Linked DNA regions of Homo sapiens. The protein of the gene in region 3 interacts with the protein of the main gene of each other region in a pairwise test. Each region holds a gene or a part of one and is shown on either strand. Other genes may lie near its edges.

What was found.
Region 1: the proteins of PHAF1 (region 3) and BCAS3 interact in binary tests that used the Homo sapiens proteins (3 or more experiments, as listed by UniProt).
Region 2: the proteins of PHAF1 (region 3) and TSHZ2 interact in binary tests that used the Homo sapiens proteins (3 or more experiments, as listed by UniProt).

The regions. Positions count from the first base shown.
Region 1 is NC_000017.11:60,673,533-60,680,951, reverse strand, and holds the start of BCAS3 (BCAS3 microtubule associated cell migration factor), read right to left. Parts: upstream 3,102-7,419; 5' UTR 3,038-3,101; intron 1,500-3,037; 5' UTR 1,495-1,499; coding exon 1,412-1,494; intron 1-1,411. UniProt on the Homo sapiens protein: Plays a role in angiogenesis. Participates in the regulation of cell polarity and directional endothelial cell migration by mediating both the activation and recruitment of CDC42 and the reorganization of the actin cytoskeleton at the cell leading edge.
Region 2 is NC_000020.11:52,967,347-52,975,414, reverse strand, and holds the start of TSHZ2 (teashirt homolog 2), read right to left. Parts: upstream 3,058-8,068; 5' UTR 2,122-3,057; coding exon 2,082-2,121; intron 1-2,081. UniProt on the Homo sapiens protein: Probable transcriptional regulator involved in developmental processes. May act as a transcriptional repressor.
Region 3 is NC_000016.10:67,126,916-67,134,019, reverse strand, and holds part of PHAF1 (phagosome assembly factor 1), read right to left. Parts: intron 2,735-7,104; coding exon 2,691-2,734; intron 1,575-2,690; coding exon 1,495-1,574; coding exon of another isoform or gene 1,204-1,494; coding exon 1,109-1,203; intron 1-1,108. UniProt on the Homo sapiens protein: Plays a regulatory role in autophagic activity. In complex with BCAS3, associates with the autophagosome formation site during both non-selective and selective autophagy.

The DNA.
Region 1 (7,419 bases), on a different chromosome or scaffold from region 3:
TCTTTGGCCAGGCACAGTGGCTCACACATGTAATTCTAGCACTTTGGGAGGCCAAGACAGGCAGATCACCTGAGGTCAGGAGTTCAAGACCAGCCTGGCCAAATGGCAAAACCCCGTCTTTGCTAAAAATACAAAATTTGGCCAGGCCTGGTGGCGCTCGCCTGTAATCCCAGCTACTTGGGAGGCCAAGGCAGGAGAATCGCTTGAATCTGGGAGACAGAGGAGGAGGTGGAGGCTGCAGCGAGCCGAGACGGCGCCACTGCACTCCAACCTGGGCAACAGAGTGAGACTCCATCTAAAAAAAAAAAAAAAGTATACATATCTTCAAACCATATTAGATTATAAACTCACTCTAGTAAGTATAGACATTCTTTGTCAAAGAATGCCAAAAACAGAGACATATACTATGACACTTACTTTGAAACTTTCTGACAGAGACCTAGACTAAGAGATTCCTTTTATAGATAACACATGGATACATAGACGGGAACACCACACACTGGTGCCTATCAGAGTTGGGTGGGAGCGGGGAGAGGGTCAGGAAAAATAACTAATGGGGACTATGCTTAATACCTGGGTGATGAAATAATCTGTACAACAAACCCCTGTGACATGAGTTTCCCTATATAACAAACCTGCACATGTACCCTTGAACTTAAAAGTTAAAAGAGATACATTTTACATCACTGTCTGGTAAATATATACATACACATGAACATATTTATGTGCATGTCATGAAACAATACAAACTCTCAGCTATATTTTCTAATTTTCTATTATATTCTATTTCATTTTCTTTCTTTTTTTTTTTTTTTTTGGAGACAGAGTCTTGCTGTGTCGCCCAGGCTAGGGTGCAGTGGCGCGATCTCAGCTCACTGCAAGTTCCACCTCCCAGGTTCACGTCATTCTCCTGACTCAGCCTCCCGAGTAGCTGGGACTACAGGGGCCACCATACCCGGCTAATTTTTTGTATTTTTAGTAGAGACAGGGTTTCACCGTTTTAGCCAGGATGGTCTCGATCTCCTGATCTCGTGATCCGCCTGCCTGGGCCTCCCAAAGTGCTGGGATTACAGGCATGAGCCACTGCGCCCGGCCTCTATTTCATTTTCTACTACAACTCCTGACCCACTAAACTGATTTAACAATCCACTAATTTGTTAAACCTGGAGTTTGAAAACACTGCTCTTCAGGATTTAGCATAGTGCTCTTCACGTACTCTGTAAATGTGCTGAATACGTCAACTTAACTCTCCAATTCTTCATTTGGTCTTGGCAATTATTATTATTCATCCCATAAAGCCAACAGTTAAAAGATTTTTACAAAAGTAACCACTGTTCATAAAGAAAACCTAAATGTTAGTATTCTGAGTAATCTTTTCTTCAGCTATTGGGTTTATCTGAAATGTGCTTACGTGACAGCCTGGGGGCGAACCACAACTCCACCAGTACAACGACTGGGTCTTCTTGGGGAATCTGTAGCCATAGCTTCATTCATAAAACCTGTTTCCAGAACAAACAAACAAACAAAAAACAGAAAAACATGGATCGTTGTTGGGGGTAGGGAGGAAGATTTATGATTACTCACTAGAGATCCCTTGTCAAAAATGCCTCAAATGTAGGAAACTTTCCCAGAAATTCCTGTTACACCAGAAAGGGAAAAAAGGAGGAAGTAGGTTTTTAATTTTTTTCAAATTATAATGAGGGGTTTGGGGGGTTATTATTATTTTTGAGATAGAGTCTCGCTCTGTCGCCCAGGCTGGAGTTCAGTGGCACGATCTCTGCTCATGGCAATCTCCGCCTCCCAGGCTCAAGCAATTCTCCTGCCTCAGCCTCCTGAGTAGCTGGGATTACAGGCGAGCGCCACCATGCCGAGCTAAATTTTATATTTTTTTGTAGCGACGGGGTTTCACCATGTTGCCAAGGCTGGTCTCGAACTCCTGAGCTCAAGCAATCCATCCGCCTTAGCCTCCCAAAGTGCTGGGATTATAGGCTTGAGCCACCGCGCCCATCCTGTTTTGTTTTTTAATAGGACCAGGTCTCAGAACCACAAAACAATGTAAGGAAGACTCCTGCTGTACCCCTTGGTCTGTTGTTAACATAAATTACAAGGGTGAGAGAACCAGATCATGGGATGGGAATTTACTGCAATTTTATGTTGAGATAGTGAAAATACACATGGTACAATATTTCAAGACCAAACGGAACAAGTGACATGATATCACTCTACCTTCCAATTAAACCTGTTGGGAATCTATGAGTAAATCACAATTTAAATCACATTCGTAACCCCCTGCTACTATAACAAATAAGTCAAGTAATTATTTGACTAGTAGCAAGTAGTCAAATAACTAACATAAACTAATACGTTGTTACAGCCCTTTACCCTTTCCCGTCACATCAGTAAATCCTGATCCTAGAATGTTTCATGACCCTCTGAATCACTGAGATTTTAAGAGCATGGAGTCGGCTTGGTTAAGGTTAAAAGAGGACTGACAGCAATATCAAAGATCTCTTACAGGGCTCAGGGAAGCCCACAACCTGGAACTCATCTTGAAGGCACCGAAAACCATTTTTAAGTAGGGAGCATTCACACCTGATGTGAAAACTCTAAACCTGTGCGCCCCACCTCCTACAACCAAAACACCCTCTGCCCCAAGGAGCAGAGCCACCACCTCCTCAGAGGATACCTGCACCTCCAGCCCCTCAGCCCTCTCATTCTCATCCCATTCTTGCTTTCTCGAACCACAGTCTCCCAAGCCCTGCCCTTTAAGGGCCCTGTCTCCTGGGGACGACCCTCGCCAGCCACTCAGGCCCCAGTCTCCTGAAAGACACTCGTACGGCGCTGCCCACTTAACCTCCAACACGGAGCCACCGCTGCCCCCGGCCGCCCTCCGGCCCCTTGCACTGTTCCCCTCCCCCTCCAGTATCGACACCTCTCTCCTGTCGAATTCCTGCCAGCCCGACCCAGTCCCCTCACGCCGCCAGTCCCTCGTCCTCCCCAAGCCTCCCCAAAGCCAAAGCCCTGCCAGCCCTCTCACCGGCCGCCCCGCCGGTTAACGCTAGTCTCCAGCTCTAGGCTCACTGTTTGGAGTCTCCCCGAGTGATTGACGGCAGCCACTTCCTACCACGCCTCAGCGGAACCACCCCCTCTAGCCAATCCCAGAAGCAAACCGGCTATGGCCGGGCACCGCCCTTGGAGGTCAGCTTCGCCAACCAGCAAGTAGGAAAGAGGCGGACCCGCCTTCTGAATGTGTCCAATCCGCTGGGGCTGGAGGGAAAACACAACAGCATGTAAGTTCGGGTGAAGCCGAGGTGTCAGGTTCGGTTGCAAACGCAGGCAGCTGGGGAATAATTACGAACATGTACATTTTTTTTGGAAGACAGAACCTTCGTGGCTTTGAAAAGAAAAGCAACATGATCCAGACTCCTGTCCCGCTCACGTGAGCGTTTCAGGTTGGAGCCGGAGGACAGGGAGACTGGTCTGTTTACATCGAATTCTCGCGACAGCTGGTTCCAAGCTCGGAGCACGTGGACATGGCAGCTGCCAATCACTTTTAGCTGGCCACTCACCCGTCCCACACCCGCCTTCTGCCCAGCCCTTGGCGATGTGTTTACCTTCCGGGAGCCTAGGCTGGCTCGCGCCGGCGATCAGCCGAGGAGGGGTTGATCTGAATAAGGGGCACGGCCGGTAATCTCAACAATTTGAGCTAGGTTTGTAGACCACTTCTTGCTTCAGTTTCCATCTCCCTTATTGTTGAAGATCGAGATCTCGCCATTGTCATTTCATCAGTTCATTTATTAATATAAGTAGAATAATACTGACTGACTTCTTGAACACTCAGCACAGGCCTTCGTATACTTCATATACAATACTCTAATGTATTATCAAATTTAATGCCAATGACAGGTCCGTGAGGGTATAGCTTATTAACAGGCGTGGTGGGCTGGGCGTGGTGGCTCACGCCTGCAATCCCAACATTTTGGGAAGCCTAGGCGGGAAGATCGCTTGAGGCCAGGAGTTCTAGAACAGCCTGGACAACATGAAGAAACCCCGTCTCTACTAAAAATAGCCAGGTGTGGTGGCCAATGCCTGTAATCCTAGCTACTGGGGAGGCTGAGGCGGAAGAATTGCTTGAACCCAGGAGGCGGAGATTGCAGTGAGCCTATAGATCACGCCATTGCCCTCCAGCACTTTAGCCTGGGTGACAGAGAGTCCCTCTCAAGACAGATAGATAGATAGATAGATAGATAGATAGATAGATAGATAGATACATACATACATACATACATACATACATACATACATACATACATAAAATTTTAAAAAATTTTAAAAAAAGAAATGAAAGAAAAGGCCGGGCACGGTGGCTCACACCTGTAATCCCAGCACTTTGGGAGGCTGAGAGGGGCAGATCACTTGAGGTCAGGAGGTCAAGACCAGCCTTGCCAACTTTGTGAAACTCTGTCTCTACTAAAAATACAAAAATCAGCGGGTTTTGATGGTGCACGCCTGTAATCCCAACTACTCAGGAGGCTGAGGCAGGAGAATCGCTTGAATCCGAGATGTGAAGGTTGCAGTGAGCCGAGATCGTGCAACTGCACTCCAGCCTCTGGGCGACAGAGCAAAACTCTCGCTCAAAAAAAAAAAAAGAAGAAGAAGAAGAAGAAGAATATATTTGGAAATATTGAAATAACTTGATAATGTGGGATTGAAATAACTTGATAATGTGGAATTGTAACATTGAAAAGGAGGCCTAGCATGACTAACTCCATTTTGCTCCTAAACTCCCCACTCCCACCCATCGGTGATATCTAAGTTAACTGCTTTTGCTTATCTCTGCACATAGACTAAGCTAACCAAGGGAGGAATTTATAGTTTAACTTTAAAGCAAGGATGATAATAGTCCCTTCCCAAAACTAACCCCCAAGGAGAAAAGGAGGGTGTACACACAAGTAACAATGTTGAGAGTTTGAGAAAGTATTGTGACCTGACCAGTAACAGAGAGGCTTCAGGCCTCGAGGAACCCTTGCTGGCGCCCAGATGTCTACGGTCATCAGTCACCCCTTGATTCAAACCCTCTCTTCTTCCCCCTGCCCTTAACACAAAAAGAGCCTGAAATGTGTACTAACTTAAGATGGTTCTTCAGGCTGGGTGTGATGGCTCACACCTCTCATCCCAGCACTTTGGGAGGCCGAAATAGGTGGATCACCTGAGATCAGGAGTTCAAGACCAGACTGACCAACATGGAGAAACCCCGTCTCTACTAAAAATACAAAAATTAGCTGGACGTGGTGGTGTGCGCCTGTAGTCCCAGCTACTCGGGAGGCTGGGACAGGAGAATCACTTAAACCCGGGAGGTGGAGGTTGCAGTGAGCCAAGATCAAGGCACTGCACTCCAGCCTGGGCGACAGAGCAAGACTCCAACTTTTTTTTTTTTTTGAGATGGAGTCTCACTGTGTCACCAGGCTGGAGTGCAGTGTCTCAATCTTGGCTCACTGCAACGTCCACCTCGCGGGTTAAAGCGATTCTTCTGCCTCGGCATCCTGAGTAGCTGGGATTACAGGCACCCGCCACCACTCCTGGCTAATTCTTTGCATTTTTAGTAGTGACGGGGTTTCACCATTTTGGCCAGGCTGGTCTTGAACTCCTGACTTCATGTTCCACCCGCCCTGGCCTCCCAAAGTGCTGGAATTACAGGCGTGAGCCACCATGCCCAGCCAAAAAGATGGTTCTTTAGTACATTATTCTGCAATTTTCCGGGTTTGCTAGCTCTCAGAAATAAAGTTACTATCCTTGCTCTAACTCCTTGACTCTTCACCCCTTGGCTGTCATGCAGTGAGCAGAACAAGTTAGGACTCGGTTACAGGATGAAGGTGAGAGGTGAAGCCAGCTGGACTTCCTGGGTAGAGTGGGGACTTGGAGAACTTTTCTGTCTTAGGAGAGGATTGTAAAACACACCAGTCAGCACTCTGTAGCTAGGATTGGAAAACGCACCAATCAGCACTCTGTAGCTAGCAAGGGGATTGTAAGGTGCACCAATCAGCACTCTGTAGCTAGCAAGGGGATTGTAAAATGCACCATTCAGTGATCTGTAAAAACGCACCAATCAACGCTCTGTAGCTAGCAAGAGGATTGTAAAATGCACCAATCAGCACTCTGTAAAATGCACCAATCAGTGCTCTGTAAAATGCACCAATCAGTGCTCTGTAAAACGTACCAATCAGCAGGAGTCTAAAAGCCAATCGTGGGGAAGATTGAAGAAAGGGCACTGTGCTAGGACAGAAACGGAACATGGGCGGGGACAATAAGGGAATAAAAGCTGGCCACTCCCCCCAGCAGCGGCAACCTGCTCCAGGCCCCTTCCACTCTGTGGAAAGCTAAAAGCTTTGTTGTTTCCTTCTTTACAATAAATCTTGCTGCTGCTCATTCTTTGGGTCCATGCCACCTTTAAGAGCTATAACACTCAACGAGAAGGTCCTCGGCTTCGTTCTTGAAGTCAGACCACGAATCCACCGGAAGGAACCAACTCCGGACCCAAAGGGAAAGAATCAAGGATGTTCAAATCCAAGAAACCTTAAAGGTGTTAGAGGAAAAAAAAAAAAGATGTTTTCTGTGTTTTGGGCTTGATCAGCTGAGTGGTGCCATTTACAAATAGGATGAACACTAGCTGAGTTTTACATTTCTTGGTAAATTTCTGTGCCTTCATTGTTTCATCCTTTGTAAATTGTAGAAGGAATAATATGGGCGGGGCGCGGTGGCTCAGGCCTGTAATCCCAACACGTTGGGAGGCCGAGGAGGGCGGATCATGAGGTCAGGAGATCGAAACCATCCTAATGGTGAAACTCCATCTCTACTAAAAATACAAAAAATTAGCCAGGCGTGGTGGCTGGCGCTTGTAGTCCCAGCTACTCGGTAGGCTGAGGCAGAGAATGGCGAGAACCTGGGAGGCAGAGCTTGCAGTGAGCCGAGATCGCGCCACTGCACTCCAGCCTGGGCAACAGAGCAAGACTCCGTCTCCAAAAAAAAAAGAATATTATGAGCCTCATAGGCTTTCTTTTTAGCAGGGGCGTCAGAGGGGGGCAGTTTTGCTGTTACCCAGGCTGGTGTGCAGTAGTGCAATCATAGCTCACTGCAACCTCCAACTCCTCGGCTCATGTGATCCTCCCACCTCAGCCTCCTAAGTAGCTGGGTTTACAGGCACACACCAACATGCTGGCTAATTAAAAAATTTTTTTCTGTAGAGACAGGGCCTCCCTATGTTGCCCAGGCTGATCTTGAACTCCGGAGCTCAAGTGATTCTCCCATCTCAGCCTCCCAAAGTGCTGGGATTACAGGTGTGAACCACTGCACCCGACCCCATAGGCTTTTTATGACTAAATAAGTTTTTTTTTCTTTTTTTTTTTTCTTTTGAGACAGAGT
Region 2 (8,068 bases), on a different chromosome or scaffold from region 3:
GATCCTTATCGATCGTAGGATAATTATAATCAAAGTCGAGCAATTCTGAGCAATGCACTTTTTGTAATGAGCTTACTAAAGGAGACATGTCCAGTCATTCTGGTAATTTAAATTACTGCCTAGTTGTTGATAGTCTTTACCGGAACAACCAGAAAAAAAAAAAGAGTAATTTTCAGGGCAGTATCACTTCTTGCTGGACCGTAGCCCAGGGTTCTCTTTCGGGACAACAATAAGGACGTTATCTCTAATAATGTAGCTACACTTAAACTTATGTTGCCAGAACTAGATGCAGCAGGCTCACTGTTCCTGGGTCTCAAAGGCCATTGAACACATCCACACGCTGTCAGATTGCAAAGCAGCCTAAGTTTTAGGAAATCAGTGAGTTAAATGCAGAAAGAGACAACGGTAGGAAAGAGACATTGTTTTCCAAAGAAGTAACTAGAGTTGAAAAAAGAAAACCTCACTGATGAGGCAAGTTCCAAATACGTACCTCACTAAAAATATTTTAATTATTTTGCTTTTAGGGAAACGATCAGAAAATATATGAATCCACGCTTTATCAATATTTCTGCATGCCACTTGAACCAACTTACAAATAGGGAAGCAATTCTGTGCTCAGAAGGAATGATAATTGTGGATATTTTGAAACACTCAGGCGAGGAAGGAGGATGAGCTTGGTGGTTCAACACATTCAGACAAGGGATGCCCACTCTCCTCAGATTCCTAACTAACTTTGGATTTGTTCTAAGGGTGACTTTGCAAAGTTTATGAAAGTGTTCCACCAAACTTCTCCCTATGTTTTGCTAGAGTTGGAACAGAATGAAATGTGGAGGTGGGTCTGCAGAAGACCAGTCTTACCTAATGTTGCCTAAATCAAGAGGGTAAAGACAGAGAGAGAGGAAAAAACAACTAAACTTAAGCTTTTTGCGAAAGCCCTGATTCAACTAAAGGACACAAAGAAATAAAAACGCCCACATTAAAAGCCAAACAAGATAATAATTGTGCATGTCTGGCTCTGAATATAGAGGGCAAGGTTTGCGTCACTGGCACTCTGAGTTACCATGGTGAGTGATTTATTGATATATATCAAGAATGAATAGATCAAAGGCAGCGAGATGACAGGTGATCAATCAAATGTCAAATCAAAACTAGCAATCAAGTGGAAAGCTGATTTTTCAGTGGGTGGGTCTGGCAGAAGAAAAATGAACTTTCATATTACATTTCCGAGAAACAAAACCCCAGCATACTATTAAAAAAGCAATTAAGCAACCCAAAAGAAAAAAAAACTTTAGAAGGTCTATTGTACTGATCCATTAACCTGTTCTTATCTTTTTTAGGGGGCAGTAAGGATTCAGATGGGATAGTTTTTACAGTACGAATCATTTCACAAAGTTTGCAACTCTCTAGGCAAAGAAAATCCAGAGCTGTTTAAATTTCTATGGGGAATTTCCCCCCTACAACCCTTTTTGGTTTTTTTAAAGAATAGGGAAATTGTTAATTACATTTCCAAATATGGATCCTTTTAGAAAATATATGCAAAGAGTCATCCATTTCCTGGGGGCATTTTGTCCACCTTGGTGATCAACGCTAAACTCCTATTGCTGGCCCCAAAGCCTGCCTGCAGCCCGAGTGTTAGGTATGCCTCACACTTCAGCGCCCCAAGCCCCAGTGAGAGGAGACGCTATCCCTGGAGGCCAAAAGCCACTGGCACTGACCACGCAGAGGGATGCAGGGGTGGAGGGGCTGTCTCCCTACTCCGCACCCCAAATCCTCAATCCGACTTTGGCCCGAGAGGCAAGAAACAGACTGGAAGAAAGTTAGGGGTGGGGTAGAGGGTGGAGGAAAGAAAGTTTAAGGAGGAAAGGCTTGGTGGGATAGCTCACCCCAACCCAACCGGAGCTTGGAAGGGGAGGATTTGGGAGACCAGAGAAGGCGAGAGAGGACGGGGTTATTAGAAGGGCACCCGGCGCAAACTCCCCCGAAAGCTTAAGTGGGTGGTGCCCCCGGGCACCCAGGGGCAAGGAGGGCGGGCGAGGAGCTCGGCGCACAGGGCAGCCCCGAAGCGGAGCCGTTTCTCTTACCTGCCGCCCGCTTGGGTGCCTGCTGTTTTCTCCTCGGCATCCTCTACTTCGCTCCAGTCCCACTTCTGGCGCCCCAGCCCCGAGCCGCGCGCTGGGGCCCGCTGTCTCTCTGGCCTCTCTGGGTCTCCTCCGCCTCTTGCCCGGTGGCTCCTAGGACGTCACTCGGCCTCTGTCCCCCTGACGATCCCCCCTGCAACTCCTCCACCACGGGCCAGAGACCCCCCTCTCTGGGTGGCAGACACGGGTGGCTTGTGCCGGCTGCTTTGAAGTAGAGGTTGGTTCTGCCTTGTTTGTTTGTTTGTTTATTTTGAATTTTTTTTCCTCTCTCTTTTTTGTTTTTGCTTTTGGAATTTTTTTGGTTTTGTTTTTGCGGTTTTTTTTTTTTTTGGTGACTGTTGAGACACTTGATTTCTTTATTAAACATCCAAGCCCGGGTTCGGATGGAAGGGACGAGGGGCGCACACGCGCCACAGGCACACTCGCGCGTAAAGATAAGGAAAAAAAAAAGGCAATCCTGGGAAGGTAGTGGGTTTCTTCTTTTTCTTCTTCTTCCTTCTCCTCTTTCCCTCCTCCTCCTCCTCCTCCACCTCCTCCTCCACCTCCTCCTTCTTTTCTTCCTCCTCCTCCTCCTCCTCCTCGCCGATCTCTATGGCGGATTCGTGCCGGGGGGAGAGCGATCACTCACTGTAGGTTTGTGGCTGCTGTCAGATCCCCGTCTGTGAGTGATATGCGAGAGGACAGGAGCGGGTTTTGGAAAGACAGAAAATCTGGAATTCACTCACTCACACACACACACAGACACACACACAGACACTCACACACGCACTCACACGCGCACGCACCCCCGCTTCCTCGCACACACACACTCACACCCCCCACATATGCACACACACACAAACACACACACACACCCTCGCACACACACACAAGACAGGGCGAGGCGATGCCAGCAAACATCGATCCCGCTGAACAAACTGAACATTAACAAACTCCTCCTCCTCCTCCTCTCCCCGCGACCTGATGACAGGGAGAAATTTACTCCCCAGCCGCAGAGCGCCAGGCAGCGGGAGCCTATTAAAGGGACAGCGTCCCGCAGGGGAGAGGGGCTGGGGGCGGGGGCCCCGGCGCGCCGGCCCAGGCCCCTCTGTGCGCCCTCTCCGCCGGGGCGAGGGCGTGCCCACCGGGCGCGGGGACACCCCTCCGGGAGGCGGAAGGGGCGGGGGCGGGAGGAAAGGAGGTGAGGAGGGAAGGGGTGCGGGAGAAAAGGAGGCAGTGTGATGATGGCTGAACTCTGAAGCTGGGAGGCTGTGGAGGGAGATTCAGGGGGGCCAGGTTGGCTGACCAGCAGGGACCATGCACAATCTTAGGAGAGGGAGAACTTAGGTTTGCTCGGGGCTGGGAAGGGGGAGGGGACCTTATCCAGTGAGGATCTCCATCCTGTAAGTCTTAACCTGCCCCCACCAAAATGTGCTCCCCACGACCCCTTCAATTTAGTGCCCCTGTCCCTCCCACTTTCTCGCTAATCAATGGGTGGTCACAAAAACAAAAATCTCCCTTCTGTCTACTTTAAGGTCTAATCATATACTCCTCTTTTTGTTTCCTTTGAAGAATGTTTATTGAGCATCTACTATGTGCCTATTCTGGAGACACAGAGGCCACAGAGAAAGGGAAGGTGGTGGCCATGTTGGTATTTATATTCTAATGGGGGAGTGCAGACAAGTGCCCCCCAGCTATCCAATCTTTGCTTAAATGTCCCCTTTTCCCAAAGGTCTACCTCACCTAAAATACACACACACACACACACACACACTCCCTGCCCCATTTCTCCATTTTGTTATTCCCCAGTGAGCTGATCAGTGAGTGTCACACAGGTTATAGACAGTTTTCTATTCTGTTGATTGTACAAGTTCCCCTCTTGAATGTAAGCTCCAATGGAAGGAAGGATTTTTGCCTCTTTGTTCTCTTATATCCCCAAGTGCTGGCAAAGCACAAGACATATAATAAGTGCCCAGTAAAATATTTGTTGAATGAATGAAAAGTAAGCAAGCAAATAAACAGGATACTTTGAGTGATTCGCTCCATGAAGACGTTAAGCTGAGTGCTGTAATAGTGTCTAAAAGGGGGTGGGTGGCTCTAGATTCAATGTAGGATATGGCATTTGAGCACAGAGAGATTGAAACAAACATGTGATTATTGAGTTCTGCTATCGGCCAGGCACCTTTTGAGGTGTTGGGGGCAAGTCTGTGAACAAGGTGAACCTAGACCATGCCCTCAAGGAGTGCTCCTTCCAGTGAGAGGGCAAAGCAACTGAGGGCATTTGATGCAGGCTGGGACTAGAGGTGTTTTTTTTTGCTTTATTATTTTTTTTATTTCAATAGCTTTAGGGGTAAAAGTGGTTTTCGGTTACATGGATGAATTGCATAGTGGTGAAGTCTGGGATTTCAGTGCACCCGTCACCCGAGTAGTGTACATCGTACCCAATAGGTAGTTTTTCAGTCCTCACCCCCTTCCCATACTCCTCGCTTCTGAGTTGCCAATGTCCATGATATCTTTCCATATGCCTTTGCATACCCATGCATTAGCTCCCACTTATAACCAAGAACGTGTGGTATTTGGTTTTTGATCCTGAGTTACTTCACCTAGAATAACGGCCTCCAGCTCTATCCAAGTTGCTGTGAAAGACATTATTTTGTTCTTTACTATGGCTGAGTAGTATTCCACGGTGTATATATATGTGTGTATATACACACAAACACACATATATATACACAAATACACATATATAGATATATATACCACATTTTCTTTATACAATAATCAGTTGATGGGCACTTATGTTGATTTCATATCTTTGCAATTGTGCTGCAATGAATATACGCCTGCAGGTGTCTTTTTGACATAATGACTTTTTTTCCTTTGGGTAGATACCCAGTAGTGGGGTTGCTGGATCAAATGGTAGATCTACTTTTAATTCCTTGAGAAATCTCCATACTGTTCTCCATAGAGATTGTACTAATTTACATTCACACCAGCAGTGGGTATAAAAGTTCCCTTTTCCCCACATCCACACCAATATCTGTTGTTTTTTGACTTTTTAATAATGGCCATTCTGGCTAGGGTAAGGTGCTATCTCACTGCAGTTTTAATTTGCATTTACCCTGTGATTATTGATGTTCAGCATTTTTTCATTATGTTTGTTGGCCATTTGTCTGTCTCCTTTTGAGAAATGTCTATTCACGTCATTTGTCCACTTTTTAATGAGATTATTTTTTTTTTTTTCTTGCTGATTTGTTTGAGTTCCTTGTAGATTCTGGATATTAGTCCTTTGTCAGATGCATAGTTTGCAAATATTTTCACCCATTCTGTAGGTTGTCTGTTTGCTCTGATGATTGTTTCTTTTACTGGGTAGAATTTTTTTAGTTTAATTAGGCTCCATTTATTTATTTATTTTTGTTGCATTTGCTTTTGAGGGCTTAGTCAGAAATTCTTTGCCTAAGCCAATGTCCAGAAGAGTTTTTCTTAGGTTTTCTTCTAGAATATTTATGGTGTCAGGTCTTATGTTTAAAGTCTTTAATCCATCTTGAGTTAATTTTTATATATGGTCAGAGACAGGGATAGTTTCATTCTTCTACATGTGGCTATCCAATTTTCCCAGCACCATTTATTGAATAGGGCAGGGGTCCCGAACCCCTGAACCATGGACTAGCACCTGTCCATGGCCTGTAAGGAACTAGGTGGCACAGAAGGAGGTGAGCAGGTAGGGGTAAGCAAGCATTACCATTTGAGCTCTGTCACTTCAGCAGGGGCATTAGACTCTCATGGGAGCTCTAACTCTATTGTAAACTGTGAATGCAAGGGATCTAGGTTGCACACTCCTTATGAGAATCTAATGCCTAATGATCTGAGGTCAAACAGTTTTATCCCAAAACCATCCACCCTGCCCTGGTCCATGGAAAAATTGTCTTCCATGAAACCAGTCCCTGGTGAAAAAAAGGCTGGAGAACACTGGAATAGACCTTTTCCCAACTTATGTTTTTATATGCTTTGCCAAAGATCAGTTGGTTATAAGTATGTGGTGAAGGTGTTCTTAGGAGGAGTGATTACCCTGAACTTGGCGAAAGGAAGGATGGTTACCAGGCGGGGCTTCAAGGGAAGAGGTAAGTCAAAGCTGAGTCTTACATATAACAAACGGGTAGGCAAAAAGGGAACTCTGATACTGAAGCCCTTGTATCAAAAAGACACCGTGTAAGGCTTCTGCTTCCGCATTAAAATCTCCTGAGGCCCTTGTTAAGATGCACGTACCTGGTCCTTGCCCTAGAGCAAGATTTTCTAACCCAGGCCCTATTGACATTGAAGGTCTGATAATTCTTTGTTAGGAGGGGCTGTCCTGTTCAATGTAGGATGTTTAGGAACATCCCAGGCTTCCGTTGTGACAATGCAAACTGTCTCCAGATACTGCCCAATGTCCCCTGGTAGGCAAAATCGTCCTTGGCTTAGCATCACTACCCTAGATCTTCTGAATCAGAAAATTCCGGATGAAGGCTTAGAGATCTGTATTTTGAACATGTAACCCATCCATCCCTACAAGTGAAACTTCTGCTCACACCAGTTAGAGAACATCTGCCCCCAAATTGTTTGTTCTTTTGTAATCAGACATACTCAATGTTGTTAACTATAAAGCCAAGTCAGGCTTAGATATTAATGTAACTTAAGGGTTCAAGGGGTGATGTTGTAATGGTGGCCGTCGCGATGGGGTTTCACCTGTGCCCACTCCTCAATACTCCTCCTCCCACCATGATCACCCCCACCCCACCACCCCAGCAAGGCCTGCCCAGTCTGATCTGGGACACTTCCCACTACAACCCACCCACCTGCTTATGGGGAACTACCAGTTCTGACTAGTTCCATGAATATTTTTCTTAACAGTTCTTTGGGCTGTATGACACTCAACTTTCCCTATCCTACTTGTCAGCCACAAAGTGTTGTTGTGATTGTTTGCAAAGTGCTGTTTAATCATTTTTAACATCCTCACGCACTTCTCCATCTCACATGTGTGGTACAAGTTGTTAACTCACTTGCCCTAAATCACCCGAGAAGCCTCCACCCATGACCAACTCCACCCAGTCCCAGCCTAGTCCTTAGGCAACTGAGGCAGAAAAAGCCCGATTTCATAGTTGGCAATGTCAACAAAAAAGGTATTAATTCTAATTACCCAATACATTTTTACAGAGCACTGTGCAAGGGACCATAGCCTATTGAATAAAACCTCACAGCCTTGCAGCCAAGGAACCACCGTTGTGGGATTAGGGGATACTTGTTTATAGGATCAGGAGGCCTGAACAGAAGAGGAGTGAAGCTGCAGCAACCTCACCATGAAGCCGCCATGCTCTGTGCAAGCCCCATGCCTGCTGGTGTGGTGTTTGTGTTACATTCAGCCAGTTATTTCACAGACATCTACTGCGCCTGTTAGGTCTACCAGGCCTTGCCCCAAGCACAGCAGATTTTGGAATGCATAAGGTAGGATCATCACCTTCAAAAAGCTTTTGGATGTTATAATAACATCCCAAAGACTGGGAACTAAAAAAGAGGGAATTTGGAAGCTGGGTCCAGCCTTGGAGACAATCAGGAAGGAAATGGGCAGGAGAAGATGACTTTGGATGACAGAATTTCCCTGAGGTTCTATCCAATATCCTTCTCAGAATTTTACATCCGCTCTCTCCTTGTTCTCAATAGCTGGTTATATAATGTGGGGGACTTGTAACAATTCTGCAGTACCTACTTTCTGGCTGGCTATTAACACATTGTTGGATCTACATTTCTGAAATGTTCTTTTATTAATTTGTATTTTTTCATACCGTTACTAATAGTTAGCTTAGTTATCCACGAAAATGGTTTTGGCTTACACCAGCGGGATGTATAACACTATGTACCCAGTGCTGTAGACAAGATGTTAAATAATATTGAATCACATAGTAAGAAAGTTATTC
Region 3 (7,104 bases):
GTAAACTCCCCAAAACCATGTAAGTCCACCTTTAATTCTGCTTGGTTTTCCTTTTCTTTTTTTTTCTTTTTTTTTGAGACGGAGTCTCACTCTGTCACCCAGGTTGGAGTACAGTGGCATGATCTCAGCTCACTGCAACCTCCACCTCCCAGGTTCAAGTGATTCTCCTGCCTCAGCTTCCTGAGTAGCTGGGACTACAAGTGTGCACCACCACAACCAGCTAATTTTTTTTTTTTTTTTGAGACGGAGTCTCGCTCTGTCGCCCAGGCTAGAGTGCAGTGGCATGATCTCGGCTCACTGCAAGCTCCGCCTCCCGGGTTCACGCCATTCTCCTGCCTCAGCCTCCCAAGTAGCTGGGACTACAGGCACCCGCCACCACACCCAGCTAAATTTTTTGTATTTTTAATAGAGACGGGGTTTCACCATGTTAGCCAGGAGGCCCGCCTCGGCCTCCCAAAGTGCTGGGATTACAAGCGTGAGCCACTGCGCCCGGCCTGTTTTTTTTTTTTTTTTTTTTTAATATTTTTGGTAGAGACAGGGTTTCACCATGTTGGCCAACGTGGTCTCGAACTCCTGACCTCAAGTCATCCGCCCGCCTTGGCCTCCCAAAGTGCTGGGATTAGAAGCATGAGCCACCATGCCCGGTCAGTTTTCCTTTTCTTCATAGGGGAAAATGCAGAAATGCTTCCTTAATTAAAATAAGTCTTATGAAAGCTTATCATTTTCACAGCCCCTAGGATGAATGAAATGTTTGCAAAAACAAAGGTAACTGAAAATCCAGAGGATGAAATCTCCAAATTCTAGGCCACCAGGAAAACTGTTGATTAGGAGCTTGAAAATAAGGAATGAATGAACTTATCTCTGAAAAGTGAGCCTGACCTCACTCCATTGTGGGAAGTATCCTCTTCCTCGGAATGCCAGCCTGAGCATTGTTCTTCCTCTGTCAACCCACCCACTCTACCACTTTACCCTGTAGAGCTCAAATACATGGAAACCAAAGAAAGTCTGCCTATCTAATACCCACTCCTCTATTCCCATCCCATGACACCATCTGCTGAGCCATACCACAGACACATACAACAAACACCAGGGGACAGGAAGGGCTAACCTCATACTTTGGAGCCTCAGTCCATGAGTCTAACTGAAAAGAGAAAGACAGTCCTCTGAAGTTGAGATGGAAGAGCTGCTCAGCGGAGTTGTACACTGTTGGGGGTGGGGGAGAAGAAAATAACATGGTTGACTGGCATCTGAAATGGCTAACATAAACCAGCCTGGCAGGGAGTAATGACTGACAACACCTTCCCTGTGGCTTGTTTCTAAACTGGCCTACTAGGTTGAAAACAAGGGGGAGGATGTTTCCTTCACACCCAAGTACCAACCCCACAATCCTATGGGAGCCTGACTCCAGGAAGTGGGGTGGGATGGCACTACCGGGCAGGTTTATTGCTATGAACTGCCACTGATGACCAGAGGAATCAGATGGACTTGGCTTACCTCCAGGATGGGTTGCGCCAAAAGACTGGTCAATCTGTTCAATGGTAGGAGCTATGGCCTGAGAATTAAAATGCACGCCACTGAAAAACAAAAATATTTTTTAATACTAGGCTTCACAAGATGGGCCCACAGATCATGTGAGATAGTAGCTGGGAGAGTTATTTTTAAGACACAGGCAGGTGAGTCTCTAATTATATCAAAATACAAAGCTTAATTAGAGAACTTTTAAATAAGAGCATTAATGAGGTCAGGAGAAGGTCAGTTCTCATGAGGCTGATATACAGAGTTGATCCTCTGGGGCTTTATGACACCAGTGACTCTTAAGAAAAGGGTAGAGAAGAGAAGCCACCAGACCCTGAGGTATGAAGGCCCCAGTAAAACTAAAAGACAACTAGAACCTGCAGGGGCCAGTGGTACCACACATTTGCTTGTCTACTCCTCTATCAGCAAAACTGCCTGAGCCTGCCCCAGGAATCAGGTCCTCTTCACACCCTCAAAAAGGGAAAGGGAAGCCAGTTAAGGAGACTTACTGAAAGGAGTATTCTATCGCTTGAACCCAGGAGGTGGAGGTTACAGTGAGCTGAGATGGCGCCACTGCACACCAGCCTGGGTGACAGAGAGAGACTCCGTCTCAAAAAAAAAAAAGAAAGAAAGAAAGAAAGGAAGGAGTATTCTAGATTTTTAGATGCAGGCATGCTGCCTTGCCATAATGGGGGCGCAACAACTTTGGACTGTGCATGTCATCCCCGCTGTAATTCTAAAAAATACATTATAGCTCTAAAATGGTGGTCTCTTTGGCATTCTCTTCAGCATAGGCTTTGGAGTCAGACCTATCTGGTTTGTCCCACCTCTGTTACTCATGAAAACATGAAAAGAGGTGCCAAGAGAGGCTGTCAGCGGGAGGGCAGCTATGACCCAGGAGACTGTCACATCACCTCTGAGCTGAGGTCTGGCTTTGTCAAGTGGATTAAGTTAGATGACATATACATGAAGTGTTAAACACATCACATATTCTTAATGAGGTTTACTTCTCTTCTCCAGGAAACTGAGCAGGCTTGAAGGTTGCCTCAGGAATTCATGGCACCAGGCTATAATTCACATCTGTGACAGATGTGAATCTTTACTAACTTATGAAGATAGTAGATATGGCCTGTCTATACCAAGTGTGACATATACCAGCAGGGGAGAAAACTTACCAATATTTTAACTTTACTTTAGTCAAATCACATACTTCGATCACCTAAAAAAAAGTTTAAGAGTTGTCAATGCTCTGAAAGTGATGACAGACTAAAAATGATTAAAAATACATTTATAGAATAAATAGTAAAAAAAAAAAAAAAAAAAACTATTACCAATAGAAATTTTATGGAAGCACTGCATGTTATCTTTTGTTCTCATTTAAAATTTTTTTAAAAACTTTTTGTAGAGATAGAATCTTAGCAAAACTAAAAAACTATGTTGCCCAGGCTGGTCTCAAACTCCTGGGCTCAAATGATCCTCCTGTCTTAGCCTCCCAAAGTGCTGGGATTACAAGCATGAGCCACCATGACAGTCCTTTGTTATTTTGAAACCAGGGAAAAAACCAGTTTCCCCTTCAGCATAACCATAGCCAGTGTCCCCTTCAGCATAACCTCTTAGCTTCCCTCTCCTAGTGGACTGCTCAACAGATGTCCATGGATGCTCTGGGTCAAGGCTCTTACATGCAGTCCACTTCTGGGTCAGGCTGGAGCACACACCACCCTATAGGACAATGATCTCTTCCACAGACATGAAGCTTGTTAAGGCTCTGCTTTGGGCACTAAGCCCCCTTCCTCCCATCTCATATTTTGCTGCATTTTAAAACCCAGGTCGGGTTGCTTTAGAAAATAGCTTATTTTAGCCGGGCACGGTGGCTCACGCCTATAATCCCAGCACTTTGGGAGGCCCAGGTAGGTGGATCTCCTGAGGTCAGGAGTTCCAGACCAGCCTGACCAACATGGTGAAATCCTGTCTCTACCAAAAATACAAAAATTAGCTGGGCGTGGTGGCACACACCTGTAATCCCAGCTACTGTGGAGGCTGAGGCAGGAGAACCGCTTGAACCCAGGAGTTGGAGGTAGCAGTGAGCTGAGATTGCGCCACTGCACTCCAGCCTGGGTGACAGAGCGAGACTCCGTCTCAAAAAAAAAAAAAAAAAAAAGGCCGGGCACGGTGGCTCACGCCTATAATCCCAGCACTTTGGGAGGCCGAGGCGGGCGGATCACAAGGTCAGGAGATTGAGACCATCCTGGCTAACACGGTGAAACCGTGTCTCTACTGAAAAATACAAAAAATTAGCCAGGCGTGGTGGTGGGCGCCTGTAGTCCCAGCTACTGAGGAGGCTGAGGCAGGAGAATGGCGTGAACCCGGGAGGCAGAGCTTGCAGTGAGCGGAGATTGCGCCACTGCACCCCAGCCTGGGCGACAGAGCGAGACTCCTCCAAAAGAAAGAAAGAAAGAAAGAAAATAGCTTATTTTGAAGTTGATTTTGTTTACAAAACAAAAAGATGGAGGGGGAGGTCTATCCCATTAGAAAGCAAGCCATAATATTTGTCACACAAGTGTGACAGTATTCAGTTATGTCCCTGATGAAGAGGATCTGGTTGAAACAAGAAAGCCTCAGGACCTTTGTGAAGCTTGCTCTTTAATGGGTTCAGCCTCAGATGAAATTCTAAGAACTCAGGGCAGGGCAGAGATAAAGGAATAGGCATCACCTAACACTCCGCCATCAGTGGTGCCAAGTAATAAGCACTATGAAGTCCTCCATGCAATGGTGTCAAGGGCTTGGCAGCCAGCAGCACAGGTAGGGGCTCGGAGCACCATCTACCATCCTCCAGCTGGGAGGTTTTGCTCTCATTGTGGAGACACAAGCAGAGCTGGCTCAATATCTGTTTGTCCTGCCAATCTGAGCCTGATTGTGGAAGAGGCTGTGGGGCATTGTATGCAGGAACATCTGGCACTGCCAAAGAAACTGAGACATAATAGATAGTAGGTTCGCTTTTGGCCAGAGACCCTATCCCTAACTTTATTTAGAGACCACAACACTGAACCAAATTGGATACCTCTTGACTATAATGTAGCTCTTTTGATCCTATCTGCTAGAAAGAACTGCTCCCTCTGCTAGGCCGTCACAGCACTGGAATGAATCCTTTCCTCCATACTTGTGTATTCTGTTAAGTGGTCCAATAAGTTAAGCCCCTTGAGGGACTCATTAATTTGCATAGGGAAGGTGTTCAATTCATGTTAGGCAATTCTGCCTGGTATGAAGCTTGAAAGCATGAAAAGAAGTGCCAGGAGGGGCTGTGGAAGGAAGGGCAGGGGAACAGCTATGATTCAGAAGATAGCCAGTGTCCCCTTCAGAATATCTGGGCATGGGAATATATCATGCCAAACTGGCATGCCATTTCACTGAGGCCAGAGCCTTGTCTAGCAGAGAGCCTCTACCTTCAGCCAGAAGCCCTCCTGTTCATAGCAGGCACAGGCACTCACCTCCCTCACTTCTATCCCTACAGCTGGCCAGTCATCCCCCAAAGCTTCCCACCACCCGCCCTGTGGAAGTGAGCCTGCACGATGTTCCTCCTGTATCACTGGCACCCCACCTGCCAACAGCTATACGGGTCCAACACATATAGGTGCTTCGACCCTGCCTGATCAATGGGAAAACAGTGGACCAGAGCTAATCACAGGGCACGAAGCAGCACTTGTGGCAATGGACCCAGAGTGCTGGCCATCCTGGAGTCCTTCATGTCACTAGGAGCATCAATAAGCAGATTTCATCTCTTGGAGCTTGCTGCACTACAGGGACAAGCAGCTGGGAAGGCTAAAGCCCATGATTTTCCATCTCTGGGCTACAGAAGCTCCTGATTTCCCCAGAGGGGAAGAGATGTGGCAGCAGCCAAGATAAAAATGGAAAAGACAGGTGGCTGTAAAGGTTGTGACTTATAAAGCCTCATTCCACAGGGCTGTCTCTCTTAGGCTTGAGGCAGGGGGTGGGAAGCAACTATAGGAGGCAGCATCAGAAGAGGTGGATTCTGAAGGTGTTGGATGGAAGGGCAGGAAGATAGGTCAGGTCAGGCTGGTGCCAATCAAAAACACCTGGGTGATTACTTGCTCAGTTTCCAGAAGACTCAGGCAGGACCCCAGTCTCTCCTTCATGGGGATCCCACAGAAGGCAGAAGAGGATTGCCGGTTTGATTTTATCTCCTTTCCTATCCAAAGGTACCTCCCATTCCTCATATTTCTGTACATTTCTTCAGCTTTTCTTATTTATTTCCCAGATCCATCAACAGAGCCTAAGTGGTCAGCCACCACATATTGCCAATATCCAGTTAAAAGCCTGGCATCAGGTAGACTACTTATCCTCTCTGTCCCTCGGTTTTCTTGCTAGTAAACAGTACCTACTTCACAGGCGGGTTAGGATTAAACTAGAAAACGCATGTGAAACACCCAGCCATGTGCCTAGCATATACTAAGCACTCACTAAACATATGACATTGTCTTCACCATGCTGTGATTTTATGGGCTGCTGGACATCCCTTTTGTTGCCCATTTAGGTTACTTCCAGCTTCTCATTACCATGAAATACCGTTACCTTCCCCCAGTGTTTCTGGGTTACATTTTCTAAAGTGGACTTTTACCAAGTCAAAGGGAAATGACTACTTGTAAAGAAATTTCCATGTTACCAGATTAATTTCCCCCCAATTTTTTTTTTTTGAGACGGAGTCTTGCTCTGTTGCCCAGGCTGGAGTGCAGTGGTGCGATCTCAGCTCACTGCAAACTCTGCCTCCCGGGTTCACGCCATTCTCCTGCCTCAGCCTCCCAAGTAGCTGGGACTACAGGCGCCTGCCACCATGCCCAGCTAATTTTTTGTATTTTTAGTAGAGACGGGGTTTCACCGTGTTAGCCAGGATGGTCTCGATCTCCTGACCTCGTGATCCACCCGCCTCAGCCTCCCAAAGTGCTGGGATTACAGGCGTGAGCCACTGCACCCGGCTCCAATTTGTGATTATGCGATATTGAAGATCATCCTCTGCCCTTTCCCAGTGTGGAACTTCTGGCCATGGAGACAGGATAGAATGAGGAATTCTAATTCCACATACTGATTCTCTTTCCATGTTTTGTTTTCTCTCCTTAGCAGTTCACTTGTGACAAGGATGATGAGAACTGGTAAGTACCCAAGTCTTTTGGAAAGGCTACTCCATAACCCAAGAAGGACAACAACTCTGGCATGCCACTGCCCAGGGCCCATCCAACCTCATGACTTTGAGGCATGACTCTGGTGTCACATGACTAACCTGTGAGGCCCAGGCATTTGTAAACAGGGTATATCAAAAACAGACTGAACTGGGTGCGGTGGCTCATGCCTGTAATCCCAGCACTTTGGGAGGCCGAGGCGGGCGGATCACGAGGTCAAGAGATCAAGACCAGCCTGGCCAACATGGTGAAACAAAAAATTAGCTGGGCGTAGTGGCACGCACCTGTAGTCCCAGCTACTGAGGAGGCTGAGGCAGGAGAATTGCTTAAACCCGGGAGGCAGAGGTTGCAGTGAGCCAAGATTGCACCACTTCACGCCAGCCTGGGTGACACAGTGAGA